Homo sapiens: one gene and its partner. The gene in region 2 interacts genetically with the main gene of each other region. Each region holds a gene or a part of one and is shown on either strand. Other genes may lie near its edges.

Region 1 (7,991 bases), on a different chromosome or scaffold from region 2:
GACTGGATTTATGAGTTTTCTGAACTGAATATATGAAGTGCAGGAATTGTTAGATTATAGATGGCATTTAAAACCATAAGAATGGGATCAACAAGGGAGTAAGTGTAATAGAGAAGAGAGGAGGACTTCTGCAGCAATTCAGTGTTTGGGGAGGTAAGGAGAAACTATAAAGGACTGGGAAGAAGTGGCTACTGAGGTATTATAGAAGGAGAGTCAAGAGAATGTGGTTTCTAGACACAGGGAATGACAACTGTTTTAAATGCTGCTTCAGGGTCAAGTGAGATGAGGAGTTAGAACTGACGATCAGATTTTGCAATGCGGAAGTCATTGCAAAATCCCTAGATTTTGACAAGAGCAGTTTCTGAGAAATGATGGGGTGAAAGCCTGATTAGAGCTAGATCAAGAAGAATGGGAGAAGTAGAGATAGTAAATGTTTGCATCCTGTATGGCACCAATCACATTGTCAGGCATAAACCAGGCACAGAAATATTTGTTGAAATATTGTCAAACCTATAAAGTACTTTACATACTTTTTTGTTATGGAGTATTAAAAATAAACTTAAGCCGGCCAGGCACAGTAGCTCACACCTGTAATCTCAGCATTTTGGGAGGCTAAGGTGGGCAGATCACAAGGTCAGGAGTTCAAGACCAGCCTGGCCAACATGGTGAAACCCCATATCTACTAAAAATACAAAAAAAAAAAAAAATTAGCTGGGCATGGTGGCACACACCTGTAATCCCAGCTACTCAGGAGGCTGAGGCAGAAGAATCGCTTGAACCTGGGAGGCAGAGGTTGCAGTGAGCCAAGATCGTGCCATTGCACTCCAGCCTGGGTGACAGAGCGAGACTGCATCTCAAAAAAATAAATAAATAAAAATAAAAATAAAAATAAACTTAAGCCATATTGTTTAATGCTTTTTCCTAATAACATTGAATTATCTATATATTTACATGTATATAGTAAATTTACATATATATATATACACAATATATTTACAAGACTTGAAAGGAATGTTTCCCAACACTTTTAAAAATTTGTTTTAATAGCTTCATTGAAGTATAATTCACATGTAACTCATCATTTAAACTGACTGATTCAATAATTTTTAGTATATTCACAAATAGGTGAAACCATCACCCTAGTCAATTTTAGAACATTTCCGTCTCCTCACAAAGAAACCCTACATCCTTTAGCTATCACCCCTCCACCTCACTGTTACATGGCCCCTAGCCCTAGGCAACCTTGAATCTACTTTCTATCTATAGATTTGCCTATTTTGGACATTTTATATAAATGGAATCATATAATAAGTGGTCTTTTGTGACTGACTCCTTTCACTCTGCATAATGTTTTTAAGTTTCATCCATGTTGCAGCATGAATAGTACTTCATTCCTTTTTATTGCCAAATGATATATCATTTTGTTTATCCATTTATCTACTGATAGACATTTGGGTTATTTCTACTTTTTGGTTATTGTGAGTAGTGCTGCTATGAACATTTGTGTTCAAGGTATATAGTTAACAGTGGAATTGCTGGGTCATATGGTAATTCTATGTCCAACTCTTTGAGGAACTGCCAAATTGTCTCCTATAGTGGCTGGACCATTTTACATTCCTACCAGCAATTGATCAGGGTTCCAATTTCTTCATATCTTCACCAATTATTATTTTCTGTCTTCTTTTTAAATTTAGTCATCCTAGTGGATTTGAAGTGATATCTCATTGTGGTTTTACCCATCACTCTTTACTTCTTCAATATGAGCTTCTCTTTCTTGTGTTATAAAACTGGAACATCATTTTCTCCTACTACATCCTAGCATTGCTTGAAAAATAAATCTTTGAATTTATTCACAATAAAGGTAATGTGTACACTTCACAATACCACTCTGGATCCCACAGATATCTTTTAAATATTATGGTTATCTTTTAAAAAACAGAAACTCCAGATTCTTACAATTCCCCATGATCTCTTCTACCCCAGGATTTAGTTATTTATGTAATAACTAAATAAGGGAAATGCTGAAATAGATAATCTGTTAATTATCTTCTCTTTACTGGATTATATGATTTTCCTTCAATATCCAAAACCAGTTTTTTTTGTTTGTTTTTGTTTTTGTTTTGAGGTGAAGTCTTGTTCTGTGGCCCAGGCTGGAGGTCAGTGGCGCTATCTTGGCTTACTGCAAACTCCCGCCCTGGGTTCAAGAGATTCTTCTGCCTTAGCCTCTGGGGATTACAGGTGCGTGCCACCACACCCAGATAATTTTTGTATTTTTTAGTAGAGACTGTTTCACCATGTTGGCCAGGCTGGTCTCGAACTCCTGACCTCAAATGATCTGCGCGCCTTGGCCTCCCAAACCAGTTTTGATATGCGATTTTTCTCTTAATCTAATGGTGACCAATGAGAGGATTTATGAACTGAATAACCACCATGCAATTGAAAGGCTTAGTGCTTCATTCAGAGTCAAATATAGGCAATTAGAATGCAACAGGGGGCCAGGCACAGTGGCTCACTGTAATCCCAGCACTTTGGGAGGCCTAGGCAGGTGGATCACTTGAGCCCAGGAGTTTGAGACCAGCCTGGGCAACATGGCGAAACCCCGTCTCCACAAAATGGAGAGAAAAAAAAAATTAGCCGTGCATAGTAGCATGTGCCTGTAGTCCCAACAACCTGGGAGGCTGAGGTGGGAGGATCACTTGAGCCCGAGGAGGTCGAGGCTGTAGTGAGTGAGCCGTGGACTGCAGCCTGGGTGACAGTGAAACCGTGTCAAAAAAAAAAAAAAAAAAAAGCAACAATAACAAGTAAAAACAACATCAGAGGTAAGATCCTACTAAAAATCTTTACCTTCCTCTCCCTGACTTGGGGTGGTTGTCTTCCTTTAAAAAACAAACAAAAAACTGTTTTGCCAAGTACCAAAACTATGTGTTTGCATCTGAAGCAATAAAACAAGGAGACCAGGTAGGGATGCAGGTTGTTACAGAAGTTGAAATCTATTTCCTGACAAAGGAGTAGCTACAAGTTGGAACACCTGGGGAGGCCTGGGGTAAATGCATATGCAAATAAGTGCTGGGAAAGTGCTCCTGGGATTCACCTCCCTTAAATACTTTCAGAAGTCATTACAGGTTATGAAACTTAGTGTTCTAATCATTACATTTATGGGAAAGAGTGGAAAGCAGTTCAGGTAACATAGCTGTAGTTGAACAGGCTAGGGGAGTGGTGGCTGGAGAAAGAAAAGAAATATAGTTGATCCAGGTTTTGGAAAGTTGAGATCTTGGGATGTGCTACTCCAGGAGAGTTAGGAAAAATACCCTTTTCCTCGACTATGGTACAGTACAGTAAGTATTGACTCTGAAAATGTTCGTAAGTACTGGCTTCCTTGGATCTAGAGGGAGTCACATTAAAATGGCTACATTTGTATCAGAGCTGTCTTTTATTCTTTTTGGCATGGTCAAGTCATTTCTAATCAGAGTAGGGGGAATACTGGTAGATCAGACGTCACTCAAACTCATGAGAATTATCTGTTTAACATCCACAAAGCAAGTAGCCCAACAAGCAAGGTCCCCAGGAGCCTACTTTATCCTCAAGGAATCTGCTTAGTCAATTGACGTATTCACAGGGCTGGAGAGGTATGAGTGGTGGTTACCTTCGTGCCAGAGCAGAACATGCCTTGTAGTTACTGCCATATTCTAGCCAAGTTACTCCATTTACTGTTCCTTTGTTCCTAAATTAACAAGGAGAAAAGACTGTGTGTTCAACACATGACCACAATAGAGAGGTTATTTAGAGAAAGCTTAAAATGTACTTGTGTTTTCTGTACTAGGCCTAGGGCACCCCAGTTATGAAGCCTTGGCCTGAGTTTCTCTCTAGACGGTGCTGAATTGCCATCTAGTTACCTATTCTGACACCAGGAACATGATTCTTCAACAAACATTGACGGAAGCTTACATGGGACCGGATCACAGCGCTGAGAAGCACTGGGGCTAAGGGGCGGCACAAAGTCTAGATATGGTGGCAGCACCTGCTCATAATGAAATGCCCACAGTTTAGTGGAACACAGCTGCTATTACTCACCTGTCTATCATTTTGTTTGGGAGAGCCCTGGTGGGAGAGGAGTATGGTATTTAATATTTAATTGAGCAGTTATATGTGAAAGAGCGTTTTCACGAGACTTAACTCCTTTCATCCTCAAATAACCCTACAAGGCGGGTACTATTCTATCCCTATGTTACAGATAAGGAAACTGAGGCAGAGAAGTTGCGTGCTTCATCAAGGTCACACAACCACTCCGTGGAGGCAAGTTGAACACAGGCTGTCCGGCTTCTGAGAGCCAGTGGAGAGGAGGGAGACGGTGGGAGACGGGCAGGGGGAAAAGGTGGAAGTAGACCCGAAGGGCAGGCTTGATCTTCATAAGAGAAAACAGTACTAACACCATCCACTGATTGACTCGCATATTTCCATCACTTAAAGCTCCTGGCGTCACTGCCAGGAATGGAAAGTTAAAAAACTCCCAGCTCTGTAAGGTTCTGCCTGGATCCTGAAAAAAACCTTCCCACATGCCCCGAGGAAACTCGAGGGCTCGCTTCTTTCTCACATCCCTGGCCCGGGGCACCGGAGGTCCCGCTCCGGCGGAGGAACTACAACCCCCACAGCACCGCGCGCGAAGCTGGGCCCCCCTGAGGGAAGGGTAAGGTGTCCCGAAGGTGCCTTCAGAAAAAAATTACGTACGTTTTTCGTCGCTTTCCCACGATCACACAGATCTCAGGTCCAGGAGGACGCATCGTCTTTTTAGTAACAGTGCATGCTGTGAGGCTTGTAGAGTCGCCTCTCTCTTCAGGCGCAGCAGAGGGCGGCCGCAATAGTACGCTCGCGCGGCGGTGGCGGGTGGTGGTCCTTGGACCACGCGGTGGGCGGAGCCAGCGGCGACGGCCTCCCCTCCCCTCCGGACGCAGGCCGGAAGTACGTGAGAGGAGACTTCCGGCCACTGCGTTGTAGTCGGCCCGGCTGCAAAGCGTTTTTCTGCAGGCTGTTTTCCCAGGTTCCCTCGGCCTGTACCTCGCGCACTCCTCTTGCTCCAGGTCCTTCAGTCTCCGCTCGTCTCACCGTAGGCTGTGACGACATGAGCAACAAAGAAGGTGGCGTCCTTAACAACACGGGGCGTTATTTATCCGGAGGGGGAGGTTCTCCAGTCTTTCTATGCAGTTTTCCCCTTTTCACCCTTGAAGGATGCCTTCGTCCCTTGTAGACTCGGGGGCGGCCCCTCTGTTTCTCTCCCCGGCCAGATCGGCCCTGTTTACACCTCCTTTTTTCTTAAATTTTTGAGGTGTGATTTTATCCTAGTTCAGTAATTGCTGTAATGCCAGATCATAGCACCAGTTGGTGGAAACTTGGATGATTTGCTTGGAAAGGCCTGGGCAGCGTCTCTGTCAGTCTGCGGAGAAAGCCTCTAAGGCGAGGGCCCTGTGGGTATCTGGTTTTAAAGCAAGGAGTAGGTTTGTCTATGTTGTGTTTTGCAAACTCTTGGTGATGGAAGATCCCTCTCTTTTTTTCTTCTCTATATAAGGATCAGGAGGGTTCAGGAAAAGGAAGCATGACAATTTCCCACATAACCAAAGAAGAGAAGGGAAGGATGTTAATTCATCTTCACCCGTGATGTTGGCCTTTAAATGTAAGTTCTCTGCAATGTAAGTTGAAGAAGGGGAGAGAACAAAATTATTTAGCCATGGTTATGCGCAAGAAAACAGTCCCTAAGAATTTAATGTGAAACTTTAGCTGGAGGTTTTGTGATGGCGCTAGATGTACCCTAAAAGTCTGGATTACAAAGGCCTTCACTTTTATGTCCCATTAAGAGAAATATTAGTAATCAGGTAAACATGACTTAAACACAAGAAACAGTAAACATTAATTAATATTTGACATGTCACATACTCAAGAATTGTGTACCTGATAATATTTACTCATCTGTTATATGCTAAAATATATTTTCATTTAGTGTGTATTTGTTTCCTCTACTAGACTTGAAGACAGGGACGGTATCTTTGTTTTAACTGTAACACTTAGCACAGAGTGGGAGCTTGTATCTATTAGTGAATCTCGCATATCTATATACACATATTTTCACAGTCCCCTTTTCTCAGCATATTAACTTGGACAAGTTATTCCTCAATTCAAAACAAACACAAAACAAAATCCTCTTCCTTTTGTCCCTGTCTATCCACTATCCTGTACCTTACGTTTCTGTGATTAAGGAATCTGGGAAGGGCTTAGCTGGTTGATTCCTATTTGCAATCACCTGAAGCCTTGATTGGGGCTGAAGGATCTACAGCTGTTGATAGTTTAGGCCTTTTGCCTGCAACCAGCTCTCTGTTCCTGTCCACATGAACTTCTTGTGCTGCTTGGATGTCCTTTGGTGTGGCATCTGGCCTCCTTCAGAGAGAGAGAGTGCAAGAGAGCAAGGAGGAAACCACAATCTCTATGTCCTAATCTCAGACATCAGACACTGTCATTTTTGTCACATTGTGTTTGTTAGAAGGGAGGCAGTTTTAAAAACTGTCTCACATTGAAGAGGAAGGAAGTTATGTCCCACCCTTTGGAGGGAGGAGTCTCAGGTTATTTGTGGATATATTTGAAAACCACCACAGTATCTACTGTGATCGTCAGAAGTTTAAGACAGCTGGCCGTAATTGAATAAAGAGCGTACTGATACAGAAGGTGGAGTTGCGGCTGGGTGTGGTGGCTCACGCCTGTAATCCCAGCACTTTGGGAGGCCGAGGCGGGGGGATCACGAGGCCATGAGTTTGAGACCAGCCTGGCCAACATGGTGAAACCCTGACTCTAATAAAGTACACGGTGAAACCCCGTCTCTACTAAAAATACAAAAAATTAGCCGGGCGTCAGTAGTCCCCACTACTTGGGAGGCTGAGGCAGGAGAATGGCGTGAACCCAGGAGGCGGAGCTTGCAGTGAGCCGAGATCGTGCCACTGCACTCCAGCCTGGGCAACAGAGCGAGGCTCCGTCTCAAAAAAAAAAAAAAAAAAGTACGAAAAATTAGTTGGTCGTAGTGGGAGGTGCCTGTAATCCCAGCTACTCGGGAGGCTGAGGCAGGAGAATCGCTTGAACCCGGAACGCGGAGGTTGCAGTGAGCCGAGATCGCGCCTTTGCACTCCAGCCCCGGCGACAGAATGAGACTCCATCTCAAAAAAAAGAAAAGGTGGAGTTGCTTCTAAGGTGGTGTCCTCATTACCCGTCTGCTGAACTACAGTTTTTTGGTTTTTTTTTTTTTTTGAGACAGAGTCTCTGTCACACAGGCTGAGATAATAATTAGGCACGATCTTGGCTCACTGCAAAACCTCTGCCTCCTGGGCTCAAGCCATTTTCCTACCTCAGCCTCCTGAGTAGCTGGGACTACAGGCGTGTGTCACCATGCCTAATTTTTTTAAATTTTTTTGTAGAGACAGGGTTTCGCCATGTTGCTGGAGGCTGGTCTTGATCTCCGAGCTCAAGCAGTCTGCCCGTCTCGGCCTCTCAGAGTGCTGGGATTACAGGCGTGAGCCACTGCGCCTGGCCTGAACTACAATTTTCTTTAAGACCTAGCTCAAGTAGCCTCTTTCCTGTGAATGCGTTCTGATTTTTCTCTCAAGCCGACTTGGTGACCAACATGAAATATTTATTGAGTATCTGCTATGTTCTCGCATGTATTAGTAGTGAACAAGAAACGTGGTTTCTGCTTTCATAAGTTTTTTACATATATTTGTTATAGCATGATTACATTTTATTTGTTTACATCTCTGTCCCTCATACAGGACTGAGCTCCTTGAGGATAGGAATTGTTCCTTATCTAACTTTGTGTTCATAGTGTCTGACTTACAGTGGTCATTAATATAGCCATAATAAATAATGAATACATATTGATTATCTTAACCCTGGCCTAGTTATTATCTCAGTAATAAAAGACTAGATATATTTAGATCCATGTCAGCTACTAATTTAGTTAA
Region 2 (7,960 bases):
GGCTGAAGGTGAAGGCTGAAAAGAACGAAAATTGCTTCAAGTTCAATAAATTTAAATAAAATATGCTCCGTAGAAATTAAAATGTATAAATCAAATATCATATACTTTTTCTGATACGATTTCAAAGTTAACACCTATACTCATACTTATGAGTGTAAAGAATTTACACATTTTATTGCACCCTAATTTTTTAAAAAATAAATTTCATTGTGCAACTGAGGTTTACAACATGATGCTATGGAATATAGACAGCAAAATGGTGAAGCAGATTAATATAGCTATCATTTCACATACTTTAACAAGAGCTGCTAAAATCCACTTATTTAACAAAAATCTCTAATACAATTTTACTAACATTGGTCCCCCTGTATCTCTAAACTTGTTCATCCTACATATCTGCTATTTTGTATCCTTGACCTATATCTCCCCATTTCCTCTCCTTCCCCACCACCAGTAGTAACCACTGTTTCGTTCTGTGTATTTTAGCTCCTTAAAAAAATATTCTACATATGAGTGAGATTATGCAATATTTTCCTTGGTGTCTGGCTTATCTCATTTAACATAACGTCCTTCAGGTCCATCTATGTTGTGGTAAACAGTAGGATCTCCTTTTTTAAGGCTGAATAATGTTCCATTGTACATTGTCTATACACACACATAAACGTATACACACACACATAATTTCTTTAGCCATTCCTCACCCATCGATGGACATTTAGGTTGCTTCCCTATCTTGGCTACTGTGAATAATGCTGCAATGAACGCGAGAGTGCAGATATCTTCACAAGGTGGTGATTTCCTCTCCCTTGGGTGTATACCAGGGACAGGTGTTGCTGTGCACCCAGAATCTTCAAAATAATATGTAAATCCTACTTTTGCTGGTATACTGTGAACTCGTATTTACCTAAAAAAATGACATTAACAGCACTCTTTCAAGAAAGTAATCTGAAGAGAAAATATAAAAGAAACCTCAACCCAAGTAAAGAAGGTATCTCTTTCCCATTAGTGTTATTGGTAATTTCTAAAGCTCTAAGCGGTATAATTTATCTTTTCATATACAGGATAACGATGGTTTCAGTTGTTACCACAAATTACTTCAAATATAACGGAGGAAAAAATCATTAGCTATATAGGGTCTTCCAATATATCATACACACAACATGAAAATCAATCTAGCTTCACGTAACTTGGTCAAACCTGGCAGAATCCAAGGGGCACGTGGACGTGACAGCCAAGTTACTACTGACTAGGCTAGGCTAAAGGTTAATAAATAAGGCACTCATAAAAGGAATCGAGGCCAGGCGCGATGGCTCACGCCTGTAATCCCAGCACATTGGGAGGCCGAGGCAGGTGGATCACTTGAGGTCAGGAGTTCGAGACCAGCCTTGTCAACATGGTGAAACCCCGTCTCTACTAAAAATACAAAAAATTAGCTGGGTGTGGTGACAACGCCTGTAATCCCAGCTACTCAGGAGGCTGAGGCACAAGAATAGCTTCAACACGGGAGGCGGAGGTTGCAGTGGGCCGAGATCGCACCACTGCACTCCAGCCTGGGTGAAAATCCGTCTCAAAAAAAAAAAAAAAGGAATCGGTATGAGAGATGGAGTCAGGAACACTGCTCAACTCGAGATTATCACACATCTCTCGTTCTTTCAATATTGGTACCGAAAGAAAATAATTTTACTTATCTCCCTCCGTGCATTTATTCCTTTACAATATGAATTATTTCCAGTCTGGCTGGCGTATCTCACTCCACACCCCAAGCTAGTGTCATAAACCATTTTCCCCAAGAGAAACCTAGAGAAAGATACATAAGCCTAAGGCTCTTAAAAAAAAAAATGAAGCATGTGTCTTCACCTCGCCTTACACTTTTCTCAGTTACCTCTCCCGAGGGTGTGAAAATATCAACATCCGGTCGCCCACCCCCACTCTCTCAGCAGTGCCTCGCATTGACTCTGCCCATCCCCTATCATTCCCTTTACAGTCTCATCACCTTGGAGAAGCCCATCGAATATTTCTTCCCATTGCTCCCCCACCCTTATTCATGGCTCAGCGCGATATTCTCCACATTTTTCTCCCAAGAAGTGGCAAAAAAGAAAGCAGCATGGTCGACGACGAAACCGGGGAGGCCTGACAACCAGACGGCAGTTTAAGGCGACGGAACTGGCTCTTTCCCCCCATCTCGGCCTCCGACCAGCAGTCGGTTCTCTAAATGTGAAATCGCTGGTCTTCCCGCTCCCCCACCCCCATCCCCATCCCCGTCAGAGGCCAAGCCGGTAAAATGCAAAGACCAAGGGGAAGCGCGAGGCAGGGTCATCCCTAACGAAGCCCGCTCCCTCCCGGGCTGGTGTCCCCGGGGGGGGGCTGGAGATTGCGGGAGGAGGAGCGAGCGGCCCTCGCCCAGAGACCCCCGGAGACGCGACCCTCGACACCCGGGCCCTTTCCCCACCCGGCTTCCCTCCCCCGCGGCCCGATCCGGAGAACTGCAGCAGCGCCCGGGCGGACCCCAAGCCGGCCTCACTGGCACACACGCCACACACAAAAGCGCCGCGGCCGCCGCCTTCCCACCCCCACAGCCCGGCGAAGCAATCAATGAGGCGGCCGGCGCCCGCGTCCCCTCCGTGCACACCCGAACACGGGGCCGAGCGGGCCAGCGGGGCTGGCAGCGCGGCTCACCATCGCTGCGCTTGATCTCCACGTAAATCCCGATCTGGATCTTGCCGAAGTTGGCCGTTGCCATCACCTCATCTGGAGCAGCAGCAGCGGGCCGAGGGAGGGGGACCGGAGGGCGGAAAAGGCGGGGAGGGGGCGGGGTAGGTGTGGGAGGGGGAGCGGTTGCCCGCGGCCGCGCCGGCCCGGGCGACAGCGTGAACGCAAGCGGGGCCGCAAGGAGCAGCTGTGGGGAAGCAGGCGGAGGCCCCGGGCCTGCAGGCCGGCAGGAGGACGCGCACGCCGGGTAGTCGGGGTGAAGCTAGGGCCGGGGCCGTGAGACGGCGCGGGGTAGAGTGGGAGGGCCCGCACCGCCCGCCGGGGAGCCGACGCTGGGGAGGCGGGGCGCCGCGCGCCTGCGCAGAGCGCGCCTCCGGCGTCTCTTCTTCCTTTTCGGCTGGCCTCTCCCCGCTGCCTCCAGGCGGCCCCGCCCAGCTCTGCAGCGGGGTGGGCGGCGGCCGCGGCTTACCCAGCCGCTGGAGCGTTGAGCGCTCGGCCCGGCCCACAGCTAGCCGGCGTCGCGTTTGATTTCAGCGCGCGGCCTAGAAGACGCGGGAAGCGTCGCGCCGAGCTTTCTTGCCCTCTCGCTTCCGGGAATTGGCGCTGTTGCCGGAATGGGTTAAAGGCCACGTGGTTTCAGGGGCTTTCTAGCGGGCTGAGGGATGTGAATTCAAGGGCCCTCCGTTGACAGTACGGGATCCGGGTTTTCATCGGAAGGTGGCACCCCCTATTTCCACTTACAGGTAGCTGACCCAAGCAGCCCTCCCAAGCACACTTGGTGTAGGTTTCCCATCCAGTTACGCTGGAAGGGAAGAAACACCCTTGAGGTGTCACCTACCCTAAATCGAAATGAAGATCCACCCCTTTACAGTCTTGCCTTATAGTTTATCACACTCAGAAAGAAGCTCTGTGGTGGGGCGTCCTTAACTGTTCAGGTTATGAGGCATCCGATGCTGGTGCCCTGTTTCTGCTGAGGGTTCAAGACTTACTTGCCTTGGCCTGTAAAGCCAACAACTGTGACTCAAGGGAAGAAGGCAGACACATAAGGTTGACTAGGGAATGTGTCTTTTTGCAATAATTTAATTAGTCTGACCACATCAGCAATGTGGAAAGCAAGACTCTCCATCCTGGCAGAGCAGGAAGGCCACGTGTACCGGGGCCCTGGAAACTGTATTTATAGCACCGTGTGAAAACCTCCAAACGTCTAACTCCTGCTTGTAGTACTGGCAATTGATAGGTTGGAAACAACACTTTTCATGGCCTACTTTCCCTAGTCATTGTTTTTTGTTGTTGTTGTTTTGTTTTGTTTGTTTTTGAGGGGGAGTCTTGCTCTGTCGCTCAGGCTGGAGTGCAGTGGCGCGATCTCCGCTCACTGCAATCTCTGCCTCCTGTGTTCAAGCGATTCTCACGCCTCAGCCTTCCGAGTAGGTGGGATTACAGGCCCGCGCCACCACGCCTGGCTAATTTTTGTATTTTTAGTAGAGACGGGGTTTCACCATGTTGGCCAGGCTGGTCTCAAACTCCTGACCTCAGGTAATCCACCCGCCTCCACCACCCAGAGTGCTGAGATTACAGGCATGAGCCACTGCGCCCGGCCTTCCCTAGTCATTGATAATCTCCCTGTAACAATAACTACAAATATACAATTTAAAATTTTAAAATTGGAAACTGGATATATACATCAATGCTTATGTGGATATATGTGTGCCTAGAGTTTTCTATCTAATGTAAGTAATCATGTAGGTCCTTAAAAAACTGTTAAAAGACTGGCTTCATCTGTAGCTTGAACATATTGAAGGTATACCTGTCAAAAGAACAATTCTATTGAATCCATTCTAAAGTGCATATAATTTCTATGGAAAAAAAACCACACTGGATAGACAATGTGGAAAATAACTTCTTTTACATTCCAGAAATGACACACTTGAGTACCCCGGTTTCAAGTGAAATTTGACCAAATCAGGGTTTAGTTTTTATTTTTTCTATAATTTTGGGAGTTTTATCTGAACTCTTCAAGCTCCTGTCTAGAATTCATTTTCTGATGTCTCTGCAACTGAGGTATAAAACATCTATTTATATTTTATTTATACTTTATAAAGAATGCAAAGAAATCAAGCTATACAGCTCAAAGTTAACATTGTTTCATAAAATATTATTATTATTATTATTAGAGACGAAGTCTAACTCTGTCGTGCCTAGGCTAGAGTGCAGTGGCATGATCTCAGCTCACTGCCACCTCCACCTCCCAGGTTCAAGTTATTCTCCTGCCTCAGCCTCCCAAGTAGTTGGGACTACAGGCGTGTGCCACTACGCCCAGCTAATTTTTTGTATTTTTAAAATAGAGACGAGGTTTCACCGTGTTAGCCAGGATGGTCTCGATCTCCTGACCTCATGATCCTCCCGCCTCAGCCTCCCAAAGTGTTGAGATTACGTGAGCCAACACGTCCAGCCAATAAAATATTATTTTGTATCGTGGTTGCTGACACATACCTTACACTCTGTGGTTTATATGGTTAATCTTAACCTTTAATCCATATAAAAGGTATTTTTAAAATATGTACATTGTTTTGCTCCATAAAAATGTATGACATAACACTTAACAAACACAAAACCTTTCCTTTATAAGACATACCCAAAAGGCTTACTTTTTTTGGTACACATCAGCATATGTATTTACCAAGACTTTCATTATGGGCTTTGTATGCTAGTGGCTTCCTAAAGAGCAGCCATAAATACATGCAATGTGGCTATGTTTCCATCAACATCCTGGATCAAATATTCTAACTCTGGCTGAGACATTAACAAGATATATAATCCTAACTAGAACTACTACTAATAAGATCCTGAATTAGTAACTACTAATTAATCACTAAGATATATACCCTACTAAGAACTACTGTTTTTATTAGGATTATATAGTCTGCACTCAGACATTTGTTCAATGAGTTAACTTCTTAAACTGCTCAGTATCTCAGTTACCTCTTTGATCAACCTGGAATAATAACTTACATTCTCTCAATCACAGAAAGTTTTTGTGAGGACAAATGAAATAAAATGTGATAGTGCCTTGATATTTATAATTTTTTTTTTTTGAGATGAAATCTCACTCTGTCGCCCAGGCTGGAGTGCAATGGTGCAATCTCGGCTCACTGCAACCTCTGCCTCCCGGGTTCAAGCAATTCTCCTGCCTCAGCCTCCCGAGTAGCTGGGATTACAGGCACCTGCCACTACACCCGGCTAATTTCTGTATTTTTAGTAGAGATGGGGTTTCACCATGTTGGTCAGGCTGGTCTCAAACTTCCGACCCCAGATGATCCACCCGCCTCAGCCCCCCAGAGCACTGGGATTACAGGCGTGAGCCAACGCGCCTGGCCTGTAATTTGTTTTATAAAAGTAAACCATCCTATAAAATATAACCCAGGCCAGGTGCTGTGGCTCATGCCTGTAATCCCAGCATTTTGGGAGGCCTAGATAGGAAGATCCGTTGAGCTCAGGAGTTTCAAACCAGACATTTGTATTCACATTCAGCTAAGTGAAAATACCAGGTGAAAGGCTGCTGATCACTTAGATCATGCAAAAGAGATAATATCATTTTTTTCTTAATACCTATCGCTGGCTTCCCAGAATAAAATCTGAATTCTTTACAAAACTGTACGCGATCTAGCTCTGGCTTCCTCGGCAGCCTCGTCTGGTGCTGCTCTCCTCTCACTCTGCTCCATTTTCGCAGAACTCCTTTCTGTCCCTTAAATCAGTCAAGATCTCTGATCAGGATGGCTGCTCTTGCTCATCTTTTCATGTGACTGATTCATCTTCCAGGTCTCAGTCAAAAATCACTCCTGGAAAAAGCCTTTCCTTGTCCCTCACCTTACCCCCACTTTTCTCAATCTGTCTTTCCTCCCCAACTCTAAAGTAACCTCCTCAAGGGTAGAAATCTTGCCTAAAATTCTTCACTCTATCTTTGGCACATAGAAGGGTACCTGGAACACAGCTGCTCAGCAAATATTTGTTGAATGAATGAAGGAAAAGTTTAATAATTTGTTATATGTTGCCAAATTTATAGCCTTAGGTAGTCTTTTCTCTCTGTTTGTTTGTTTTTTTTCTTTTTTTGAGATGGAGCCTCACTGTCGCCCAGGCTGGAGTGCAGTGGCATGATCTCGGCTCACTGCAACCTCTGCCTTCTAGGTTTAAGCAATTCACAAGAATCGAGATTCTCACGCCTCAGCCATCTGAGTAGCTGGGATTGCAGGCATGTGCCACCACACCCAGCTAAGTTTTGTATTTTTAGTAGACGACGGGGTTTTACCATGTTGGCCAAGCTGGTCTTGAACTCCCGACCTCAAGTGATCCGCCCACCTCAGCCTCCCAAAGTTCTGGGATTAGAGGCATGAGCCACTGTGCCTGGCTCATCTTTTCTCTTTCTGAATAAGCTCAATTGGTAATAGATTTTCTCATTAATATGACCCAGACAATCAATATTTAATGTTTCAATCATTTGAACCTCAAAAATCTCTAGTAGATATAGATTAGTGTATATGTAATAAATGTTTATAAAAATTTTAGGCTGGCACGGTGGCTCATGCCTGTAATCCTAGTCCTTTGGAGGCTGAGGCGGGAGAGTTTTTTGAACCCAGGAGTTTGAGGCTGCAGTGAGCTGTGATCCCACCATTACACTACAGCCTGGGTGATAGAGTGAAACCCTGTCTCAAAAAATAAAAAATAAAATTTTAAAACAAAAAGTGTATAAAGTAAAATGAAAGGGAAAGCCCTCGTTGCCCTCCAAGTCCCATTTTCTGGAAGTGGCCACTGTTAAGTATCATATTAATCCAATAATTCTCAATCTTTATTGGGCATAAAAGTCATATGAGATGATTGTTATGCAGACTCTTGGGTCCTATCATCAGAGATTGTGATTCAGTAGATCTAGTTTGAAGTGTAGGAATATGCACTTTTTTAACATTCACTCCAGGTGATTTTCACTCCAGGTCAGGTGATAATTCTTTTTTAAAATATATTTTACAAAAAATTTTAAGCCTGGGCAACATAGTAAAAACCTTGTTCCTGCAAAAAAAAAAAAAATTAGCTGAGCGAGGTGGTGCGTGCCTCTAGTTCCAGCTGCTCTGGAGGCTGAGGCAGGAAGATGGCTCGAACCCAGGAATTCATGGCTACAGTCAGCTATGATTGCACCACTGCACTCCCGCCTGACAGAGCAAGACCCTATCTCTAAAAATAAAATAAAATAAAATGAAATAAA

The links. Genes that interact genetically often act in the same process or in processes that back each other up.
Region 1: of KIF2A (region 2) and TSNAX, changing one suppresses a phenotype caused by changing the other (phenotypic suppression), as found in Homo sapiens cells (one study listed by BioGRID).

What each region holds. Positions count from the first base shown.
Region 1 is NC_000001.11:231,523,695-231,531,685, forward strand, and holds the start of TSNAX (translin-associated protein X), read left to right. Parts: upstream 1-4,974; 5' UTR 4,975-5,116; coding exon 5,117-5,132; intron 5,133-5,560; coding exon 5,561-5,665; intron 5,666-7,991.
Region 2 is NC_000005.10:62,301,253-62,309,212, reverse strand, and holds the start of KIF2A (kinesin-like protein KIF2A), read right to left. Parts: upstream 3,008-7,960; 5' UTR 2,741-3,007; coding exon 2,677-2,740; intron 905-2,676; exon of another isoform or gene 702-904; intron 1-701. UniProt on the Homo sapiens protein: Plus end-directed microtubule-dependent motor required for normal brain development. May regulate microtubule dynamics during axonal growth. Required for normal progression through mitosis. Required for normal congress of chromosomes at the metaphase plate.